2 linked regions of the Homo sapiens genome follow. The protein of the gene in region 1 interacts with the protein of each later gene in a biochemical or structural test. Each region holds a gene or a part of one and is shown in the gene's direction. Other genes may lie near its edges. The genes, in order: KLF8 and NFIA.

Region 1 (12,633 bases):
AGGAGTATGAGCCTCCCGGAGGACGGCATGAGTTCTGGACACTTCAGGAGTCCTCAGCTAGTGACATGGTCGGTAAGTGACTCTGGGACTAATACCCACCCACTCCCACCTCTTTCGTCTAGATTCTATCCCCCTCCCAGTCCCCCTGCTCCCCCCACACACCCCACTTGGGGTTTCAGCAGTGGGGGCGGGAGCGGAAGGTTAAGAACACTATGTGGAATCAAATGAAACTCAAGGGAAAATGACTTTGCTAAAGGGCTGGGCAAAGAAAGGCCAAGAAGGAGAGGAGAGAGCTTGGTGGAAGAAGTGAAAGGGGGCAAGAATGGATGGATTTGTCTAGTCTAGTCTCCCCTGGCTCGGCACTCCCAATACTCCTTAAGCGGTAAGGATTGTCTTTGACTTAACCCCACACAGCCAAAGTCACAACCAGAGAGAACAGGATTCACAAGGCCAAAGCTCCCAGGTAACCCCCTGAAGCCATAGCGGGTACCTAGAGAAGCTTCTGAAAAGAAGGAGGAGGGGACAGTGGTTTAAGGTGCAAAGTTAGGCTATTGGAGGCACAGAGTGAGGCCTGGAAGCAGCTGCGGGGGAGGAGCTGCTTTGGGCGTGCCAGCTCTTTAAGGAGGGGCTGAGCTTGGTTGGAGAAGGAAGCCAGAGCCTAGGCTCTGCTCCGGCCCTTTAAGACGTGGCCAAGGCAGTTGGTTCGTCTGTGTAGGTGGAAGACTGACTGGGCCGAGTTGCTGTGATTGCTGAAGTGAATCCATTTGTTTAGCCACTTGGCGGAGCTGTCTTTTTGTGGGCTTTTTTTTTTAACCCTAAGAATTTGGGAAAAAATAAATCACATCCAAACAGGTGGCCAAAGGCACCATGTCTTATTTCTTTTGGTATTATATTCATCGTGAAGAAACGCATTTATTAAGCACCTGTCACCCAGTGTGGTAATAATTGAGCAAAAAGAATAATCTTTAAATTTGGATTTGAAACTGATGGAGATTGCCATGGTTTGGGGTAATCTGCTTTGAAACCCTAGTATCACCACTTATTAGCTGCATCACCCTGGGCCTTGCTTTTCTCTTCCATAGAATGCAGATTAATAATTCTATCTCAGTAGATACTCGGGTGGATGAAATATCTTGTGTATGTGGCAGAGGCTGCCACTTGTATCTTAGTTCAACTTCCCTTTTCTACTCAGTTTGGAACTATTTTTCTGGACCACTGCTGATAAAATTAGTGTTTTTCTGTCCTTAAAACACCTTCCAGATGTGGTAAAACGAAACTTAGGAAGACTGAATTAGTTTGTCCAAAGGCTGAGGCTAGAACACAGGTTTTATTTGCTTCTGATTTAACATTGTTTCCACCAGACTTCATCACTTCTGAAAGAAAGGGCTACTAGCCTGCCTTTTCTCTCATTCTTTGGGCAACTTAACCAGAATGATATAACCAACAGGACTTTTGGACAACAGAAACAAGTGATAGGTAAATGACCTCATCCCATTCTTCAGAGTTATGGGGAAGCCCTTGAGAGTTGTTGACCTTTGGTGACTGCTGGGGACACAGAGAATGGGTGGGGAGCAATGTCTTCAGGTAAGCCTGGAGGGCAGACAGGCAGAAAACATAGGAAGAGTAGAAATAATAACCTCAAAAGTAAAAATGACAGGTGCATCTATGTAGTCCACCCTCAAGACCAACTTACTTAATGGCTGTACCTTCAGAGCCCTCAGGAGCTATACATCCCTCTTGTTTAGACTTTTCAGGGCACATTGGAAATTGGGAAAAAAATAACCATGTAGCAGACTACCATCACCACTCTCATTGTTCTAATACATGCATTTCTGAGGTGGGGTTCTCATTGGCTAAGTGAATTCCAATAACCAAAGTAGCAAACAGAGCCTAGTCATTTTTGATCTTGCCAGATTGTCTGTGCCTGGTGCGGTGGGGGCAGTATATGATCTTCTAAGATCTAGCTTTACAATGCCATGATTTTGTGAATGAAGGAAAACTTAATTAGGATGATTGACATAGATGATCATCTAGTATGATTACCATCTTATTGTTAAGTAGAGTATGAATAAGGGAATAACATTGTAGTATTGGGCTCATTTGTTTATTCAAAGACAGTGTGAGATCATGTTTGGTATTCTTCCTGATTTTTTTTTTTTTTTTTGACACGGTGTTTCGCCCTTGTTGCCCAGGCTGGAGTGCAATGGCGTGATCTCGGCTTGCCGCAACCTTCGCCTCCCAGGTTCAAGTGATTCTCCTGCCTCAGCCTCCTGAGTAGCTGGGATTACAGGCATGCACCACCATACCTGGCTAATTTTGTATTTTTAGTGGAGACGGGGTTTCTCCATGTTGGTCAGGCTGGTCTCGAACTCCCAACCTCAGGTGATCCATCCACCTCAGCCTCCCAAAGTGCTGGGATTACAGGCATGAGCCACGTGCCCAACCTCTTCCTGATTTTTATATGCTAATGTTTACTATCCTCAACTGAGTTTCATCATTTAGCCTGTTTCCTCATCTCTAAAATGACATGATAATTTGTGATTATAAATAATGTAAGGAAAGCATTGAACTCAGTGCCTGATATCTAATATGTTTCATAAGTTGCGGTCTCATCATTTTTGTTATTTAAAAAAATTTGTTTTATTTAAATGCTGCTGTGTGTTTGCAGAAGTGGAATGTAGATTAGTGGACAGGAAGCTGGATTTAAATATATGAAAGGTGCTAGATGTTCTGTATAATATACTAAAAGATGTTATTTGTGTATTTAGACAAAATAGATGTGATGTGGGCAAACTAAGCTCTAGGATTATTAAGGAGCAATAACCTAACTCAAGAGCCCAATCCAGATATTTCAAATCACTAGCAATTTGACATTTTGTTGTAACCTCACACTCACCATTTCTAATATACAGCCCATCATCACCTCTGGACTCTTCACTCATTCCTCATTCAAGACTCTTCCTTTCACTTCCCTGGTTCTGCAACTTACTATGACCATAGTAATGGTGAACTTATTTAAACTCTGTACTTTAGTTGTCATATCTGTGCATTGGGGATAATAATAGACACTACCTCATAAGGTTGCTGTGAGGAATAAGTGTGTTAATTTTGTAAACACTTAGAAGGCGGCATGAAAGTGAAGCAGTGGGAAAATGTAGCTGTTGTGGTACTCATGTCCCTTTCCCCTCTTCCTCATTTTCTCATTTAATTAGATGCCAATGGCTGTTGTATTTTTTCCCCTTTGTATCTGGTATCTGTTTCTTTATTATTATTCTAACTGCCACCACCTTAATTTAGGCGAGACGTGCAAACAATTAGCCTACAGACCAACTAAAGCTCACACGTGTTTTGTTTTCCCTAAAATTTAAAAACTTTCAACTAAAACATGCATTTTCAATTGGTAATGCATTCCGCCTGGCTCAAAATTCAGTATTTACTAAAGGGTGCATGGTGAAAAAAGTCTCCCTCCTATTCCTGTTCTCTAGCCACCCATTTTGCCTCGCTGGAGGCAACTAATGTTATCTATTTATTAGGAATCTCTCCAGGGATATTTAGTGTATATCAAGCAATGAGTATGTTTGTGTGTGTGTGTGTGTGTGTGTGTGTGTGTGAATAACATTGTAGTATTGGGCTCATTTGTTTACTCAAAGATAATGTGAAATCATGTTTGGTTTTCTATAGATAGATAGATGGATATATATATATATATATATATGGTTCAGTATCTTCTGATTATTCAAAAGAAACTGGAATTCTAGGAATTTAAGTGAAATCTGATTTTGAAATACTGGTTATCAATCAACTTTTAAAAGTGTGGGACTAGGCAACTTGACATACTGACATGAACTGAATTGTGACCCCCCCATCCCCCCCAAAAAAATTCATACATTGAAGACCTAATACCTAAGCTTGTGACTGTATTTGGAGATAGGGCCTTTAGGAAAGAAATTAAGGTTAGATGAGCTCATATTATATATAATACATATATAATATTAGTATATATGTAAGTACCACAACAACTATATTTTCTCACTGCTTACTTCACTTTCATGCCTTCTTCTAAGTGTTTACAAAATTAACACACTTATTCTTCACTGCAACCTTATGAGGTAGTTTCTATTATATATATATGTGTGTGTGTGTGTGTGTTTGTGTGTGTGTGTGTATATATATATCCCCTTCACCTTTTATACACAGATAGTAACACATTCTGCATATTGTTCTCTACAACTTGCTTGTCTACTTAAAAATATACTTTGGAGATATTTTCATATATGCACATTTTTTAAATGCCTCATTCTTTTTTATGACTGCATAGGTTTTTACTATATGCATGAGCCACAAATTTTTAAACAGTTTTCTGTTGATTGATCTTTAAGTTATTTCCAAACTTTTGCAGTGTTATTTGTAATAACAATAAAAACTTTTGTAAGCAGTGCATTAGAGAGCTCAGGCTGCCATAACAAAATACCATTGACTGAGTGGCTTAAACAACAGAAATGTATTTTCTCACAGTTCTGGAGGCTGGGAGTCCATGATCAGGGTGCCAACATGGTCAGATTTTCATGAGGACTCTCTTTCTGACCTGTAGAAGGCCACCTTTTCACTTTGTACTCATGTGATCTTTGTACAAATGGGAGGAGAAAGAGTGAATTCTCTCTGGTGTGTCTTCTTAGAAAGACACTAATCCTATCAGATCAGAACCTCACCTTTATGAGCTCATTTAACCTTAATTTCTTTCCTAAAGGCCCTATCTTCAAATATAGTCACTAGGTTAGGTCTTCTACCTATTAATTTTTTTTTGGAGAGTGGACACAACACAAGTCAGTTCATAGCAGTGTGTCAAATTGCCTAGTCCCACACTTTTAAAAGTTGGTTGATTGCCAATATTTCAAAATCAGATTTCCCTTAAAATTCTAGAATTCTAGGCCGGGCGCAGTGGCTCATGCCTGTAATCCCAGGACTTTGGGAGGCCAAAGCAGGAGGATCACCTGTCAGCAGTTCGAAACCAGCTTGACCAACATGGTAAAACCCCATCTATATTAAAAATACAAAATTAGCCGGGTGTGGTGGTGCATGCCTGTAATCCCAGCTACTCAGGAACCTGAGACAGGAGAATCGATTGGACCTGGGAGGCGGAGGTTGCAGTGAGCCGAGATCACACCATTGCACTCCAGCTTGGGCAACAAGAGTGAAACTCCGTCTCAAAAGAAAACAAAAATTCTTCAATTCCAGTTTCTTTTGACTAATCAGAAGATACTGAACCAGCATTCTCTCTTGGCAATAATTGCCTAGAGTTGATGAGCCTCTCCCTCCCTCCCCTTTAAAACAGTACTTGTATTTTTTGTTCACCACATTACTCATCTGGCCTAGGTGGCCTTAACCTGTCTGACCCCTAGTCTAGATATTGAGATTATGGCACCTATGTAAGCTCTTACCGCAGTACTCATAGAATATTCCAATAGCTTCTAGTTCTACTTTGATTCTTTCTGCCCTCTCTACTCTGAGGACCACTGCAAGGATATATTCCTTAAAACACTTTTAAAAATTATGTTACTCTCCTTCACTCCACAGTCATTTACTGGGTGTCTACAAAGTTGGAAGCATCATGCTAGAAGCTGAGGTGATAGTGGTAAACTTACCACTTTAGGTTAGGTAAACTATCAGTTTAGGTGGGACCCTTGCCTTCATGGAGTATGCAGTTTACTTTTCCTCTCGTCTGGATTTCCTTTCTGTTTCTTCTTGACTGTCGTAGTTCTTCAAAGCCCACCTCAAAGCAAACCATTTATTTGAAATTTTCTCTGACTATTCCATTCTCAGTAATCTCCTCCTCTCCCAATTATTGCTCATAGCCTCAAATCATAATCCAGCAATGCAGCATCTATTATCTTGTAATATTTGATTGCTATTATTTTATGCATAATTGTTTCTCATCACACGGACCTGGGATCTCAAACTTAAATCTCCAGGGCCCAGTAAAATGAGAAAAGCATGCCCTGTCTAAAGGGGACAGCTGTTGATCATCTCCAGCTAATTTTTCCCTTGTGCCAATGTACACTCTGTATTATAAAATCTCTCAGCTTTTTTAGAAAAGCAAGAAATAGGATTTTTTTCTTAAAACATGAAATCTGCATTTGAAAGGTTGTTAGATGTTTCTGTTTTAATCTTTAACATCACTATGAGAACCAGGCCAACATCTGCAGTGGGCTGCCAGTTTTCTCTATCTGACCTAGACTGCAAATTTACTGAGGATAGAGGCCAGAGACCATGAAGTTTTCTTCCTTCTGGTATTACCTCCTCCCTCCTTCCCACATAATATCTACTACAGTGTTGACTATTTAGTAGGGTCTTGGTAAAGACTTGATTATCATCAGAAAGTTCCCCTTTAAGTTAACCATGATGTCCTGTAAATGACATAGTAGTTCTACTTTCTCCAAATACCTAAATGTGCCTTTGAAGACAATTATCAGGCCAGCTTTCTTTTTCCCTGTCCCCCTTTTTGCCAGATGTAATCATCTACATTTCTTGATCTAGCTCCATTTTGTTTTCTTTTAAAAAAATTGGTTATTTCTCTAGTTTCTTTCATTTTTTTCTGCATTTCTCTTCTATTTGCCATTTTTCTTGAAATATTGTACATCACAAATAAAGTACAGTATCTTCAGAAAGGTCTACATGATGCTGAGCATATATTTAAGTTTGATTATTTGGAGCTAATTATTCCATCTCTTGTTTCTTCCTATACGTTCAATGATGCGGTTGTTTCATCTTCAGTTAGAATGGGCGGGGATGTGATGTGAATATATTTATTTCTTGTTTGTTAAACTAGTTCTGATAAATATACATAACAGTTGGTGCTAAAAGAATAATAACATACTTATTCCTTAATTTTGTAGCTAGATCCTAGAATAGATGTGTAGCGTTGAATTGGCTACTGCATTAACCTCACTTTCTGGAGCTCTACAAACTGAAATGGTCCAAGACTCTTCTAGGATGCCTTGTCTTGGTGCTCCTGAGCCACTGCTCAGGCAGTGAGTAGAAAAGTTATTCAAGAGCCAAGGTCTCTTCCCTTAAGTACCTGTTGCACAAAACATGGATGAGGACCAATTGTATTGTTACAAATTATTTGTGGTTGCCACACTACCACCATGTTTAATTTATTGGAGGAGATTGTTGCATGAAATAAAGGTATGAAGTAATGAAGAGGATCACATGAGATGTTACATAATGATTCAGAGCAATGAGTTTTTGCTGCTGTGGCTCTTTGTCCCTTAGTGCCATGCTGGAGTTGTAATTCCTAGAGGTTTTGTTTTATAATTAACATAATAATTAGTGGGAATCTTTTAATACTCTGTACATATATTCAATATTAGAGTTTGCTGCAAAGATATAAAAACACCTTCATTATTATTATTTTCAACTCTAACAAACTATTTCAAAGTACAGGGTAGTAGCAAGTACTTTAAGGAAAAAAAAAGAGCTTTGGTATCAAACATCATACCTGGATTCCAATCCCAGCTCAATAATTTACCAGTTTATGTGACCTTGGGATTATTTAATCCCATTGACTCTATTTCTTCATGTGTATAGTGGGATCAACAGTAATACCTACCTCACAGGGCAATTGTGAAAATTAAATATGTCCCATTAGAAATGCCATGAAGTGTGGCACACGTTTACCTATGTAACAAACCTGCACGTCCTGCACATGTACCTCAAACTTTAAAATTAAAAAAAGAAATGCCATGAAATGATATATCTGGGATTTGCATAAAAATATACATTGAGGTAGGGGGAGTGGGTTGAGGTACAGATGAAACAAGGTTTACCATTAGCTGAAAATCATTGAATCTGAGAGTAGGCGCATGGGGTTTTTGTCTACTTTTGTATGCATTTAAAATCACCCATAATTTTTTTTTGAGATGGAGCCTCGCTCTTTCATGCAGAGTGGAGTGCAATGGCATGATCTCAGTTCACTGCAACTTCCACCTCCTGAGTTAAAGTGACTCGTGCCTCAGCCTACCAAGTGGCTGGGACTACAGGCATGTGCCACCACACCTGGCTAATTTTTGTATTTTTTAGTAGAGATGGCATTTCACCATGTTGGTCAGGCTGGTCTCAAACTCCTGACTTCAAGTGATCCACCCGCCTTGGCCTCCCAAAGTGCTAGGACTACAGGCATGAGCCACCGCACCCAGTCATTCATAGTAATTTTTTAAATGCCATTGGAATGAGACTCAAGTTTACCTGATGGTTTGTAGAAAACTTAATCCTTCTTGACATCAATCTCACAGGTTAAGCAGAAACCTGAGATGATTATTATGGATTTTCCATCTATGTCCTTGTAATAAAATCATATATCATAGAATGTTATAAACTGGAAGGGATCTGAAAAGGACTAAGTAGTTTACTCAAAATGACACTGCTAGACAACAGTGAAGCCTGATCTAGAATACAAGTCTCCCAGATCCTAGTTAAATGATTTTCCCATTGTTTCACATGGCCTTCTTTAATAGTAAGAGTTTTATCTGCTTATTGCATATAAGATTAATTATTGTCTAAACATAAATATATTTGTTCAATGGAGATTCAAGGCAAGGGGACTGGTTCTAGGCATCTGAGATTATGTTTCTATAATACCTTTAAATCTGTTTTGTCAATTGATTCTTACAAGTATCTTGTGAGGTGAATGAGGAGTTATTTCCACTTTCTACATAAAGTGACGAGACTTGCTCAAGGTCACACAACAATTTACTGATTAAACTAGAACTAAAATGCAGGCCTGGAGTTTATTGAGCTTCATCTCCACTTGTATTTCCAGTTTTAGACTTTTATCATAATTCCTCTTAGCTTTCATCTTTTTCCAGAATGAGGAATCTTAATCTCTAGCACATTCCAAGGTAATTTTTCATTCTGGCGTATTTATTTTCTTTTTGTGGAAAAGAAAATGTAGCTTAACATCAGCGTCTGAGAGAAGCGCAACTGGCTGAAAGCACTGGAGGCTATGCAGGTGATATTGTAGAACATGAACTCATAGGAGAATGGAGATAAAGATATCAAAAATCATACATAAGTTTGTTACTGGAAATGGTTTACATCTTAAGTATGTGACCGTATTTATGTACTTTTAAAATTTTTCTGACAGAAGTAATCCTAAAAACTTATATGGCTATTTTATCTTTACATCTTATAAGATATTTTTACATGTGTTATCATGATTGGTCTTCCTAACAGCCATGAGTGGGGAGGGCTACACTGGTGTATTCCCATTTTTCAAAGGAGAAAACAGACATAGAAAGGTCAAATGACTTGCCCAAAGTTATAAATCCCTTTTCTGGTATTTCTTATCACCTTATATTTTCAATACCTTATATGACTTCACTACTTCAAGTTTAGCTGGCTGTTGTAGTAATCATGTAATACTAGATTTCAGTCTTTCTGTCACTGTCGTTCATACATGTTATGTGCTGCCAGCCTTCATTTATTTTTGTGGCAATATGTTTTCTCCTCTTAAATTCTGTTCTTTTTAACATCCTAGTTTGCCCCCACTTCCTTTTCTCTCATTCCAGGTAAGCTAAGCAGGAAAACTACAGGGGTTTTCTGGTTTGTTTGTTTTTTCTTTCTGCTGGAAAGATACACGTAAATTTAGAATTAGTCAGCTGGACTCAGTTTAGATGATCCCAATTTTGTTGGCAACATCCAAAGCATTGTAATCAGGAGCCAGTCGAACGTATGCCTTCTTCTCTCCATCAGGTCAAATCAGGGTGTTGATTTGCCACATCAGTATCATAGAGCTTCTTCACAGCCTGTTTGATCTGGTGCTTGTTGGCTTTAACATCCACAATGAACACAAGTGTGCTGTTGTCTCCTATCTTCTTCATGGCCGACACAGTGGTCAGCGGAAACTTGGTGATAGCATAGTAGTCAAGCTTGTTTCTCCTGGGGGCACTCCTCCGAGGATATTTGGGCTGCCTACAGAGTCGCAGTGACTTGGGCCGCTGGAAGGTGAGGGGTGTGTGGATCTTCTTTTTTGTGTGTGTGGTTGTGGACACCTTTCAACACTGTCTTCTTGGCCTTCAAAGCCTTTGCTTTGGCTTTGACTTTAGGAGGGGCAGGAGCTTCCTTCTTCCCTTTCCGCGCCATCTTATCGGGGTTTTCTGTTTTACAGCTACTTCTGAGTACCTGCTGTGGTGGTGGTTCTTATAATTTAGACTGGGTACCTCAAGTCACTCTCCAGCTTTTGTGTATGTTGAAACTCTTGCTTTTTTTTTTTTTTTTTTTTTTTTTTGAGACGGAGTCTCACTCTGTCTCCCAGACTAGAGTGCAATGGTGCGACCTCAGCTCACTGCAACCTCCCCATCTCCTGTGAAGCGATTCTCTTGCCTCAGCCTCCCAAGTAGCTGGGATTGCAGGCATGCACCACCACTCCCAGCTAATTTTTATATTTTCAGTAGAGACAGGGTTTCACCATGTTGGCCAGGATGGTCTCGATCTCCTGACCTCATGATCCACCTGCCACGGCCTCCAAAAGTGCTAGGATAACAGGCATGAGCCACCACGCCCGGCCCAAAACTCTTGAATAGAAAAGTCATACAGAGCTGCCTGCTGAGGTGCTACAACTGGAAGGTGAGGTTGAGTTTTCCAATGGTGACAGGTGTGAGCCTGTTTGGGGGAAATGAGATAAATTGGAGGCTTTTGCAATCTCCCTTTATTAAGTAGTTGGTTTATAGCAACCATTTATTCTCTGCTATGGAATCTGCTTAAAACAGAAGCTGGAAGATCCTACTGGTACCCAGGTAATTTCATTATAGCTGCTTTATGTCTCCAGACTACTGAGGTTTAAATCTCCTCTCTGCTGTTTACTAACTTGGTGATTTGGTGGTAAGCAACTTCATCTCTCTGTGCCTTAGTTTCCTCATTTTTAAATTTCATTCAATTCAATTTAATTTTTATTTTCTGTTTTTGAAACAGGGTCTCTCTGCACCCAGGCTAGACTGCGGTGGCACAATCATAGCTCACTGTAGCCTCTACCTTCTGGTCTCATGTGATCCTCTTGCCTCAGCCTCACACAACAACATGCCTGGCTAATTTTTAAATTTTTGGTAGAGATGGGGTCTCACTATGTTGCCCAGGCTATTCTCAAACTCCTGAGCTCAAGTTATCCTCCCGCCTTGGCCTCCCAAAGTGCTGGAACTACAAGCATGAGCCACTGTGCCAGGCCCTCTTTCTTCCTTTTTAAAATGAGGAAATAATGGTGCCTACTACTAGGGTTGTAAGGATTAAATGAAGATATCTATAGATAGATAAATAGATATAAACAGAACAGTGTCTGACACAAAGTAAGCACTCAATGAATGTCGGCTGTTATAGTTCTTTTTATCACCATTCCATTATTAATGTCATGCTGCAGAGATATCCTGAAGGCTTTCCCAAAGGCCCATTGCAACACTACTCTTAATTCCTCTGGAAGATGTGCAATAAAATTGTCTGAAAATAAATGTGTACTGTAGTCTTTCTCAAAACCCTTAAGCATTGATTTTTATTTTTAAATAGTTCCAGTACTTCTTATAGGTTAGAGGCCAAAGATGAATGATATCTGCTTAAGATCTTCCTAAGTGATTAGTTGTGTTGTCCTTAAATGTGTTCTTCTTTTAGCAGACAGTTTTTCAGAAAGAAGGTGCTCACCAGATTTGAGGTATTAGAAAATGGTTGGGGAGCACTATAATTTGAGTCAGAGGACTAAAGTTTCAGTTCTGATTCTAGCACTTCTAAACTATGTGATGTCAGGCCTCCAAATTTATTATGTGTGAAATGGAAATTATATGAAAGCTGTGTATTTCCTTACTGTAAAGCTATGTTGATGTATATAAGACATTATTTGAATTGTCCAAATGCTGTATCCTGTCAAAGCACAAGGTCTTTCTTAGGCCCGGGTCAGGGTTTCCAGTGCTCTGCTTTCTTTTTAGTTGTAGGTTCTAATGACTCTGCTTTGCACCCCTTGTCACTTTATCTCTAGGCATTTTTCCCTTTCAGGGTTGGCCAAAGGATGGGATGTTTTCTTCTTAGCCAGCACCTGCTCCAGTTCCTTGGAGGCACTGTTCACTTTTGTAAGACAAGCTGATCATTATAGGAAATGCCACTTTTGTATAATATAAACTTGGGGACATGACAAAAGTTACATAATTTTATCAAACTCCTGTAGTCACAGTACCTGGAATGTGGTTTGTGATGTCCTGCATATATGAGACATTGACCCACTGGCGATGGGACTCAATCTTCTTCCCTATTTCTTCCTCCTCTGTTTCCTTCTATAGGACCCATGCCCTTAGGAGAAGGACCAGAAAGTCCAGCTTGTAGACACAAAGGCTTGAAGAGCCAATCCAAGCAGAATAATGGTTATTACCTCAAGTTGGTAATTTGCATTTCTGGTGTCCTCCTGCCTGAGTGATTCACATCTCAATGGCCCAGGCCATATATACTATAACCCCCTTTTGTATATTTCCTTACCACTTCCCTGACAGCTTTTGTGCAGCTGTCTGGTCTCTCTTAGGCACTTAGAGCAGAAATTCCAACTCTAGAGAAGAGCAAGAGGCTCATAAATCCCTCTTCAAAAAAAAACAGAGCCTTCTTTAAGAC
Region 2 (12,633 bases), on another chromosome or scaffold:
GGTAGGCACCTGTAGTCCCAGCTACTCGGGAGGCTAAGGCAGGAGAATTGCTTGAACCCAGAAGGTGGAGGTTGCAGTGAGCCGAGATTGCGCCACTGCACTCCATCCTAGGTGACAGAGTGAGACTCTGTCTCCAAAAAAAAAAATAATAATAATAATGCCCGGTTGGCAGGGGCCTACGTGGTGAAGAGGGAGGTCAGTATGGACACTCAAGGATTGTAGGTCTAAGTGAAAAATAGCATCTAAAGGGAGATGGCCCCATAGTTCTAAGCTTCTGGGTTAAATCTCACAGTCTGAAATTTAAGTAAAGGCAGGAATTCACAGTATGTTTGGTCAGCAAAGACTATTTGTCTAGGTCTTTAAAGAACTTTTATCTTTACTTAGATATCTATGGTATCTATGATTATTAGGTCAAGATTGTTGCTACTGCTGTTGTTGCTTTTACTTTTCATTTTGTTGTTTGTGGAATTATTTTCAAGGCCCTCATGTCATATCCATGCTGATAGTATATACTATTTTATCAATATTTATGTACTTTTTTGTCCAAGAGACAGGCGAGCAACAAGTACCTCTTGTTCCATCACTCCTTTCTTTCATGTATTCTACAATCAGAACAGGTCCTAGCACACAGGAGCAAATTTCAATGTATTCATTGCCTATCCCATTCTTGTCTATGATAGTACTATCATACTACAAAAGAAGCTATTGATCACTTAATTGTGTGATCAGAAACTGTGCCGTGTGCCTTATATACATTGTCTCATTTAGTCTTCACAACAGCGCTATGAGGTATTATTAGCCCCATTATACAGATGCCAAAACTGAGTTGTAGAGAAGCTCAGCAACCTGAAGCATAGCTCGTGATAGAGCTTAGAATTTAAACTCATGTCTATCTGACTCCAAAGCCCTGGTCCTTATATTATACTGCACTGCTTTTCTGAGTCGTATGTTTAACTTAGAATTATATACGCACACACACGGATGTGGTCAGCCAGCACAGACCAAGGCATATTAAGTAATGGTGAAGACAGACAATCAAAAGTCTACCGTGGAGAGTTAATGAGATATCAAAGGTGACCAGATTGCTTTGGAAAGCTTCAGAAAGCTGAGGTGGAATTGGTATTGACTGTCAGGGGTCTGACTCACAGAGCACAGCAGGTGCTTGGAGAGTGAACAAGAATTTTGTGGGTCTACACCAGGGACTGGAAAACTATTGGGCCCACAGATCCAATAGCCCTTTGCCTGTATTTGAAAATAAACTTTTATTGGAACACAGCCGCGCTCATTTGTTTATGTAATGTCTGTGACTGCTTCTGCACTGTAGCAGCGGAGTTCAGCAGTTGCAACAGAGACCATATAGCCTGCAAAGTCTAAACTATTTAGTATCTGGTCTTTACAGAAAATGTTTGCCAACTCCTGGTCTAGTCAGGGCCTTGAGCAACAAAGGTCTTGAAGTAGCTAAAATTGATCTAGATAAAAATTTTAAAAGACTTTGGCCTTCTGTTTTCTTGTGTGGGTCTTTCTTTTTCTTTCTGTTTTTCCAAAAGACATTAGAATTTGATCTCTTAGAAAATCCCCTGAATTCAAATGGAATAGACTCTATCAACCATCTTGGAAACTAACCGTGGCATAAAGTTACTTTGTCTGGTAGCAGTAATACAAAAACACTGGTGTTTTGCAAGCTGTCAAGCCATGTCATATATTTCTCTCAATTGACATATCTGGGTCCTTTCACGTGCATCTTCGTGATGTTAAAAGATATGTACCATATGTTTTGAAAAACCTTGGCTCACCTCGAGTCAAAAGCTTTGTTATTTAGAAAAGGCATCACCTCTTAAAGGTTTGAAAAGCATTGCCAATTCTTCTTTCCTGTATCTCTGTTAAAATAAATCCCTTAACTCCAAACTTCTCAGCTTTCATCAATGGCAGGCCTGATTCATGCATGATTTATAAATTAGGGCTATGGACCATTAAGATAGATTTCTCAGCTTTAGGTGGGGTATAATGGTGTTATATAGTGTGGTTTTGAATTTCTGAAGAAGCAAGATACATAGTAGTTGACAACCCAAGCCATTTTTATGTTCTATTTACCCTTATGGAAAGCTTCTTTTGTTTTTTAAGTGGGATTTTTTTCTTCGATTTTCTTTTCCTTTTGAAGCTTTGCCGTATTACAAATTTTTACTTCTAATTATGAGTAGTCAAGAGTTCTTAATGCCACCCTTACGCTATGGAAGTGGTAACTTTCATCTAAAGAACATCTTATTTCTGAAGACAGATAAGAAGGTTTTTCTTATAATGGCGCTAACAGAGAAAAACTGTTTGGAATCTCACCTGTTGCCACTGCCTTTGTATTCATTAACACTAAGACTGTGAAGTTTTGCAGATGCCAGGGCTCAGGAGTGATTATTCGCTCTTGTGAGGGAAGAAGCCTGTATATAACACTGCCTTAAGAGCACACTGTGCCTGAAGGAGGATTATATTTTATTGTTTGTGTTGCTCTCTTGACAGCTTTTCTTTGGAGCCTCCCATAGAAGAGAGACTGGGATTTAAAGGCTGATGCCAGAAAGCAAAAGCTAACGTGAAAAGAATCCAAGTCTCTGTCCAGTGTGTGAGAATCTGCAACGGTTCATGGACAAGGAATAAAACAATTAAGGCAATGTCAGGGTTATAATACAGAAGAACATATTTCAACCCATAAAATTTTGGTTTGAGGGAAAATGTGTGAGAGTTATTAGAGTTCTTGGAGGATGAGCTTGAGAAAAACTACTGGAAATACTAAGAGATTACTTTCTTCTTCTATCTCTTTTTCTTCCCTAAGACTTATAAAAGCAGAAAAATGCAAGATTCCAAGCTTGTCTGGACACAGCTCCCTGATACCATCCTATTTCATATGGCCCACGCTTAGATTTTCTAACTAGTTCTGACTCCTCTTAAGAGCACTCTTATGTGTCTACAAGACCTCCTCCCCATAGTGGACTCTCAGACCAAGAATCACTGGTTGTATTATAGAAGTCTTGCAACATATCCAATAATACAATAATGATCCTGACCTTCTCCTTTCTCAGTCTTAATAAATTCTGCTTTTAACGGAAGAAGCATTTTTGAGTTAAACATGTATATGTATTTTTTCAATTGTTTGAATTTTTAACTTTTTCTCCTTTAAACTAAAACCAAGAGAGGATTTTTAAGAACTGGTGGGCTGCTGGACTGGTGGGGAGGGAATGAACAAGTAAACCAACCTGACTGACCTGCTTTCGTTTTTCAAAGTATCCAGTAATATGATCATTTTGTAATAAATAGCTGAGTATTACACCCTTTGGGAAATTGTGGCTCTCTGTTTCTTTTCGTTGTGGCTACTTTGTTCAGGATGTGTAGGCAGTGCCATTGCAGCCAAAGAAACCTGATCAAATTTCCTTCCTTCCCATCTTATTTATATTCTTTGTGAAAAGCCCAAACAGTTGTTTTAAACAAGTCTGGCCACTCGTTAAAGTTTAAACTAGTAGTGAGATCCATCAGGAGTGAAGTGTTTCTGACACTCTCTGCTGCTCCTGGCCTAGGGTACTAAGAGTATTAGATGCCGGAAGCAGCCAATTTTGTAGTGTCTTTTAATACACAAAATTGTATTAACATCAATGTGGATACAGATGGATGCACTGCAATAAACTGTAACCACTTGAGAAAAGCCTTTATTGACTCTCAAGTAAATAATGCACATTTTAAAGGATCTAAATATGCATTTACATAATGTGCTATAATTTTTTATGGTGTCAACTACTCACACACACACATCCATAAGACATGTTTTTCTTCGTCAAAAATCTGGACTCATACCATTCTTCGTGCATTCCATTAGCATCATGCCAAATTCATAATGGTAGTTTTTTTCTATAAAGCCTGATCTGGCCACCTCAAAATATAGTTGATGAATTTTACTCTTTAATTGATTTAACCCCAGTGGCTCTTTCTAAAATGATTTGAGACAAATAAAAACTTAGGTACAGTAAAAACATCCAAGATGAAGAGAGAAAACAAGAAATAGGAGAGAAGAGAAACAAAGTTAGGCAGGCATTGATGACATCTTAATTCTGAGTTTCAGTGGGTTTCATTGTCTGGTAGAAGAGGAATAGCAGGTTATCTAGAGAAATAGCATCTATTTAATAATAACTAGAGCTTTGTGATGTCAGTAACGTAACTATTTTCTGTTTGAAGAAATGAAGGTTCAGGATCTCGAATGATTTCTCTCCAGTTGCACAGTGAACTGATGACTGAACCAGAAAGTCCAAAGCATGAGAAAGTAAGGGTTGCAAAGGATGACCCTTTAAAATGCAGACTCAGCAATTGCCCAATTTGAAACTACAGGCTAAATGATTTCCTGGTATTAATTAAGAATTAATTGATTCTTATAAATCAGTCATTGTAGAATTAATTCCATATAGTACCATATGTTCTTGTGTTTGTGTTAAACTCTGTTCCACAAGGAAATGGTGAATAAATTGTTTTTAGTAAAATAAAAAACGAAGGTCTAAATTTAAGTTGCTAATGATTGTCTTTTACGTATTTAACAACAACAAAATGAGGGAAAGGATGTTTATAACAGTTAATGAGGAGATGACAGGGTGCTTTTGAGTTATTTCTTCTATCTCATTTCTTTAAAGATCAGCTCTGCTTGATCTTTGCTCAAGTGAATTTCTTTTTTGGGCAGCATTTTCTGTAGGCCACCGTGATTTCATAATCTAACAATTACCCATCACTTTCCATTGAGCACCTGAGGCAGCGGCACTTTATCTTCAAGGTCAGCCTACCAGGGGCTCTTGTCAGCAGAATTGGCACCTTTGTGTTTGGCATTCTGCAAAAGTTGAGTGTTTCGTTTTGTTAGGCTCAGTATATTCTCAGCCTAGTTTGGGAAATATCACATTCTGTCCTTAACTAGTGACTATTCCATCAGACGCAGGGTACCGAGTACAAGTTTTTTGCCACCAGCAAGGAGGACTGTACCATGTTGGATGAAAAAATTCCTTTGATTCTTGAAAGCCAATGGCATAATTTGCAGAGTAAGAGATGACCAGAGCCATTTAACTTTTTAGCTTGTGGGTTTTAACAAGCAACAACAATAGATCCCAAGATTTATCATTCATTGCAGGAAGTCCTAAGTTTTACTCATTTTTCTTTTTTTTTTTTTTTTTTTTTTGAGACGGAGTCTCCCTCTGTCGCCCAGGCTAGAGTGCAGTGGCGCGATCTCGGCTCATTGCAAGATCCGCCTCCCAGGTTCATGCCATTCTCCTGCCTCAGCCTTTGGAGTAGCTGGAACTACAGGCACCCACCACCACACCTGGCTAATTTTTTTGTATTTTTAGTAGAGATGGGGTTTCACCGTGTTACCCAGGGTGGTCTCAATCCCCTAACCTCATGATCCGCCTGCCTCAGCCTCCCAAATTGCTGGGATTACAGGCATGAGCCACCGTACCAGGCCAGTTTTACCGATTTTTCTAAAAGCTCCCTGGCTCTTGACCAGGTGGAGAAACCAAGTTTTGGTTTTAGCAAATTTTATTCTATGTTTAACGGTATGATTATCTTATTAACCTCTGTTTATTCAGTCATTCACTGCACATTCAACAAATATTTATTGAGTGCCAGACTCAGTTCTGGGGATATTGCAGTGGGTTGAAAAGGTATTTACGAAGATGGAGAAGGCTGGGAGAAGTGTAAGCTTGAGAGGAGAAGGTAATGAAAATTCTGATTCAAATAGGTTATGTTTGAGACATCCTCAATTGTATGACCGATGGCAAAATTTCATCTGTTTTGGCTCAGATTTGTTTCTTGAGCCCATAGTAGGAGCCTATGAATATTTATTGGGCAGATTAAAGATTGCATAAATTAAAGGGTTGCACCAGACCACCTGCAAGACATGGATTGGAAAGTTGCTTCCCCTCCAATCGCCCATTTCCAGTCTTTTTGAAAACTACAGATGTCACTCTGAACCCCATAGCATGAGCCATTTCAGTCATTAGTCAGAAAGTGCCCCAATCATGAGGAGATCCCGGTAGGGAACAAAGAACCTATGCCCAGCAACTAATACAGATGCATTCTTTTTCACAGCCTTTAGCCATGCAAGTGGGATAGTGGTAGAAGTGATGGCCTGTCTTACTGAGTTTCTCTTCAGTATTATGAGTCATTCTTGGTATTGGAAAGGTCTTATTTTCCAAAATGTGGACATTCCTGTGATTTTCAGTTTAAAGATTTAAACCGAAGAAAGGAAAGATAAATACTTTCATCTCCTCTAATTTGGGAGAGGTTTCTCTGGCTCTCATTGAGAAGCAAGAGCTGCTGCTATCTTGGCTTGACTTGGTTTGAATATCTGCAACCTTCCCATGCACTGCTCTTATCCTCCAGCCAGTTTTATCAATCATCCTTCTAATTCAAGGGCAAAAGTTCTCTTAGAGAAGTTATTAGGCACCTCACATAAGTTTTTTTAATCTAATGTAATCTTCTTGTTCACATGAAATTTACCAGGGTTCAAATGTAAGGGAGCAGTAGTTGTCTGAGTCTTTTATCAGTTTTTATGGGCACAGGGCCAACATTTTAGCAGGGGTCACTGCCTGCTTACCCTGTGGGTTCCCCTGCTGTAACATATGTGCATTTCTGAGTTTGTCTTTGAAATGGCATCTGAAGGCGACATAAACCATCCGTGTAAAGTGAGGCACCCAAATTGCATGGGCTCATTAAGTGATCATTTACTACATACTTCAAAAAATTTTCATCCTGAATTAGTCCCTAGAAATTTCCTTGAAAGGGGTATAAGAGGTTTAACAATGAATTATTGTCTATGGATAGCTCAGCGTGAAAGGGGATCCATATGTGCAAACTAGAATTTGTCATATGTAATGTCAGTTAAGTCAGGTCTAATCTACCAAATACATTTTTTATTGCTTGCTTCATTAAAAAGGCTCTTAAGGTAATGAATAATCTTCAGCCTCACCAAGGATTATTAATGCCTTTATAACTCATGTCCACTGAAAATAGAAAGACAGCTTGAAACTCTACCCTAATCTAACCTCCGTGTTTGTCTTAGAGCCTTAAGGAAGAAAATCTGTCAGACCTATCCAGTGTTAAATTCAGTCACATGAGCAATATTGTGAATCGGGCCAGGAAGAGAAATAAAGGAGGAAGTTGAATCGGGTTCAGCTATGACAAAGCAGGTCTTTCTTTTCATAACCCTGATGTTTTCTTTTCCTGCAGCAAGTCCGCATGCAACACCATCGACTCTTCATTTCCCGACATCACCCATTATCCAGCAGCCTGGGCCTTACTTCTCACACCCAGCCATCCGCTATCACCCTCAGGAGACGCTGAAAGAATTTGTCCAACTTGTCTGCCCTGATGCTGGTCAGCAGGCTGGACAGGTGGGGTTCCTCAATGTAAGGAAACCTCTTTTTTTCCATTTCTTTAGAAATGTTAGCCGAATATAAAAATAACAAGGGGAGACCTTATGATCATGTGACGTTGTGCTCTAATGTTGTGCTGACTGACTGCAGGCAAATGTCATATTTATTCTAGATTGTGGGAAAGTTAACTTGGTCTAAGAGTGATTAGTCAGGGTTTAAAAACAGTGTTTGTGTTAAGTTTGCAACTGTCAAGTTTATGGATATAAATCAGCTCAAGGGTGAACTATATAACCTTCTAAGTTCTGTGGGCTGATCATTCCACCTCGTGCATTCTAACCCCAGGGCTCATACAGTTAACAAAATAGAAAGACCAAGTAGTTTTAAATAATGATTTGGGGTGGTAGAGAAAGGTAGGGAGATGAAGGGGACAGATGTTTCAGATCAACTAAGTTGATATTTTTGAAAAATACAGTCTTGTAACACTTTAGATCAAGTTGACCAGTACTTGAACTCAAGATGCTGAAAGTACAGTTTATTATGGTTTGTTATTTCTGCAAGTCATTATCTTTCCCACTTATCTTGGTATAAAGCTAAACAGTGTTCAATAGCTTCACATGAATGTTTTTATTTTTCCTCAAATAAACCAAATAATCACAATTTGAAATGGCATTCCAAATGTAAAAGTGATTTTTAAAAATCAGAAATTTTATTTCAAATATAGGATTAGATGTTTACAGTGGAAAGCTGTATCTCAAGGCCAATAATAATAAACAACGACCAGCATAAAGCCAAATTTGATTTTCCTTTTCTACTAATAACTGTGCATGAAGTCACAGACTAGCCATAATTATTACTGGCCAATTTAGGATAGTATGTCACACCATCCTGTCACCGATTTTTTTCACTTGCAGAAATACCTGATTCTGCATATCTGCGCCAGAACAGGCAGCTTTGACTAATGTCTGGTGATGTGTTAGCAGATACATTTCTGTCTAGACAACAAATCAATATGGTGCCTCTTTTCTTTTTGCTTGTACATTCATTTGCTTGGCTTATTCTAAAGCATTCACTTATGGACTCTCAGCCCACTCAGAAATAACGCAAAGGCAAGGTTGCTGGCAAGAAAGCACAGCATTCTGATCGTCAGACGAGGTAGTCTTTGAGGAGCAATACTAAATATATAAGTACTAAATATATAAGTAAATGTTGATGGGGGAGTGAGACTGCCTCTGTAGAATTATTAAGCTTAAATGTAAAAGCCTGGGACAGCAGAATCTCCTTCAACCGAATTTTGATTGGGGACTAAATGTGAACTGTTGTCGTTGGTTGAATAGAGGCCTCTTGGGAAACAATGAAAAAACTGAGCTGATCACCAGCATCAAGCATCTGACTTCTAAATTATTAACCATTTTTGTAATAGTCCTGACACCCTATATAACTGTCAAATGCCCAGTTTTGCATTTTGATCAGAATTTTATAGGACTTAAGGCAGGTCTCTTCATGAAACTATTTTGAAAAAATTGAAAATAAAATGGGTTTTATTGCTCTCTTTGGAGGGGAATTTTTTGTTAAAGAGCTGTTATTTGGTTGTTTTAACATCAGGCAGCAAAATAAATATGACTCTTATGGCATATGCTTATATAATTTAAATCAAAATTAGAAGTGATATTTTTCCCTAGCAGACTTCTGACAGCTGAATTCTAAAGTTTCTGTGCCTGATGTTATACAATATGTGAACAAAATTTTCTATGTTCACTTAACACATTTATTAAATGTTATATAATATCAACTTTGAAGAGTGAAAATAAAATATTACTTTTTTATCTCAAGTGCATATTTAGGAAAATTTATTCTATCTATGTAAAGAAACATAGTGGAATAATGCCACAGTCCATAAAACACTTAGATATTAAATATTTAATAATCATGAGAAAGATAATGAAGGTAGCAGTTAATACAGAAAAATACAAAAGATTCCAAGCAAAAGTTGGTTACTCAGGGGACAAATCCAAAGTGATAATTGGCAGGTGATTTTATGAAACCAGATGCAAAGAAGGACAATGTAGTTCAAGAGATAAGTTTAGGATGCATGGAGCACATGTGGCTAAGAGTACTTTTGTGAAATGCCTTAAGAACAGAACCCAACAATGGACATTTCCGTATGGGCTTATGGAAGAATTGAAGCAGCTAGATACTTAGTAATTTACATTAAAGGTGCCTGATGAATATTTTGTTTTCAGAAGCAGCTAATGGTTGCTGTCTCTTTCTTCTTTTTCTTGTACGTGTGTTTTCTGCCCCCCCCCCCCCCACAGCCCAATGGGAGCAGCCAAGGCAAGGTGCACAACCCATTCCTTCCCACCCCAATGTTGCCACCGCCACCGCCACCACCGATGGCCAGGCCTGTGCCTCTGCCGGTGCCAGACACAAAGCCTCCAACCACGTCAACAGAAGGAGGTGCAGCCTCCCCCACGTCACCAAGTAAGTATGGCTGCGACAAGGCGCCGGTCACTTCTAAAGCTGTATGCACTGGAATCCACACTTAGGCTTTGTCCCTCACTGTATAGGCTCTAGAAAGAGGCACAGATCCCCAGTGATGTTGTAGCATGAGTTTGCCAGACCGAGAATCAAAGTGAACATGACTCTTGGGTACTCCACCAGATGAGGAAAACACTGGGTGTTGGGTGGATGAGATGGTGTAGCTACATACCTAGGACTGAAGTCAAGTTATGAGCTATTACATTTTGTATATTATTTGAGGGATTTCAAATGCTATTCCCATCATCAAGCAGCAGCTACTTACATGGATTCTGCTTAGAAAAAGTTCCTCATTCTTACAGACAGCCCTGCCTTCCAGGAACTTGCAGTCTAAGAGAAATGCACTTGAAAGTTATATACCTCATACATCAAATAGGAGAAAATGTCTAGATCAAAGCACCAACTCAAAGGTGTGTACACTGACCATTCGCTGAGAGTAAGAGCCTGGCAGAAGATCAATGCTAGTAGCCCTGGCAGTCGCATGGTGAGGTTTGGCAGAGGTTGGGGTAGGGGCTGGGGTACGGAGATAGAGGGGAGAGTAGGATGGAAGGAGGAGAGAAGTCTTGGCTCTTCTCTGAACAGTCTGAGAACATTTAATCAAAGAATATAAGATTTCACAACCCTTTTAGATGATGGGAATGATTACTTGAACTAGAGAGAGAGTAATTCTCCAGATATTCCCTGATGTTTTAGATATGGCAAGGGGATAGAAATAGTTTGAATGCACAAATGTGCCTTTTATTAGTGCCTGGAATAATGACAAAAAGAGTGATGGCTGGAGTTCCTAGGTGATGGATGCCCTAGCCTTGATAGATGGTGTGATGAGCACCTTCCCTAAAGCTGTAAAGAGGCAGCAAAGTATAAGAGAAGGATAGGAGCTGTGGCAGTGTGACCCTAAGGAAAGCCTTCAAGGGGGTTGTCAAAAGAAGTGAGACTGAGGCAAGGAATCTACAGAGGAAAGGATGTAAGAGCAGCATAGGAAAGGAGTGTTAAGGCCAAGAACTTGAACCACAGTAATAGGTGTAGAATGGAACGGGACATGGTGGGGAGTGTTTTGTAGACATAAGCATCGGGATTGGACAGTCCTCTGGATGAATGCGGTGAATGAAGATTCTAGGCCTCTCAGCTTCCTTACCTTCAGTATTGGAATAATAATGATAGTGAATACAGGAGGGAAAGAGACAAAGAAGAAAACTGAGCCCCTGTTTATGCCATGTTCATAGAATTTGATTCTGGGGGCACGGAATCCAGATGGCTAGAGGCCCTCATGGACACATCAGAGAGTGAGCTTTGGGTTATCCAGTATTTATGCATTTTGATAATATATGCAGAAATGAGCAGCACTGTGCATAGATTCTGTATCAATAGCCAAAAGATTGAAGGTTCAGGGGCAATCTAGGGAAGACCTACTTCTCTTGGTAAGAGGTGATTCAACACTTGTCAACAAAGGAGAAAACCCTCAGTGTCCAATGACAGAGAAGCAAGCTGGGCTTGGCCCATGGATCTTAGAAGCTCAGCTTAGAAGGAAAGCCTCTGCTTCTCAGAGGTTTGAGGCTTGTTCAAAGATGTCACATAAATACACAATAAGTGCCCTGCTCGTTGTGTATTTATGTAACATCTTTAAACAAGTCAGAGAAATAACTGCCCCAGACTCTACTTACATCTGTTCCTTGAGGATGTTGGCTTACAGATTATGCCTACTGTGCCCTGTCCATGCCTCTGCATACCATTTTCTGCTCGTCTTCTCTCTGTCTGTGCAGGACATTGCCACAGTCTTTTAAAAGCTGCATAGTAATATGCAATCAATTCCGTGGAAACAGATCCTCACCTCCACTCTCAATGGCTCGTGTGTCCTAATGAGTTTTTCAGTAACGGGAATGAGGCTCTGCTGAGGCACAGCAGAAGAGTGGAAATAGTAATGTGTGGCTGTTCAAGTCTAAAGGATGGGGGCTCAAATGCCCACCTTTCAAATTACTAACTGTGTTTCTCTTTGAATCAATTTCCTCTTCTATAAAATGTAGATGATAATATCTACCTGGCATGTTTGTTGTGAGATCAGTTCTGATCATTGGAGTATTTTATTATCTGCCCAAACTCTTACATAGTGGAAGACTCCAGGCTTGGGTAATGGTAAAATATATCTGTAGGACTTGGAGAAGCTACTCAACCCCTAAATTGAGTTGATGCCTTTGGGTCCACAGTTCTAGACTCCACTCCGTGGATTGAACCAAGTGCTATGTATAAGATGATACCTATCATCCTCTTGTGCCCAGCCTCAAGCATCTTGTCAGCACTAAGGGGCAAAGGGCAGAAGGAGTCTTGGCAGATCCAACTCATATGGTTGCATGTTAGAGCAGCACTTAAGATTTGGGGTGGGGTGGGGGTGAGAGAATATCAGGAGAAAGAGTCCCAGAGCTTGATACAGATAATTTGATACTTACTTTTTGAATCATGGGATTCTAGAAATATAGACAAAACAAAATGTTCTACCGATGACACAGAAAGGTTTTTATCATCATTCATTTTAGCCCTTGTTCAGCTAAAGGCTTTTCTAGGGTATGATGAATTCATAGTAATATGTAGTTTCACAGCATACTATTGCTTACCATTTTCTGCTTTCTTAACAAGATGGTGTTAGGCTGGGAGAGCTGTAATTTATAGCGTAGGAGAAGCCTTTCAAATTAAAAATCTTGAAGCCCACTCATCCTTATTTGGA

What was found.
Region 2: the proteins of KLF8 (region 1) and NFIA form a complex in vitro, tested with the Homo sapiens proteins (one study listed by BioGRID).

What each region holds. Positions count from the first base shown.
Region 1 is NC_000023.11:56,233,270-56,245,902, forward strand, and holds part of KLF8 (Krueppel-like factor 8), read left to right. Parts: 5' UTR 1-6; coding exon of another isoform or gene 7-65; coding exon 66-72; intron 73-9,620; exon of another isoform or gene 9,621-10,143; intron 10,144-12,633. UniProt on the Homo sapiens protein: Transcriptional repressor and activator. Binds to CACCC-boxes promoter elements. Also binds the GT-box of cyclin D1 promoter and mediates cell cycle progression at G(1) phase as a downstream target of focal adhesion kinase (FAK).
Region 2 is NC_000001.11:61,396,868-61,409,500, forward strand, and holds part of NFIA (nuclear factor 1 A-type), read left to right. Parts: intron 1-7,236; coding exon 7,237-7,415; intron 7,416-9,694; coding exon 9,695-9,860; intron 9,861-12,633.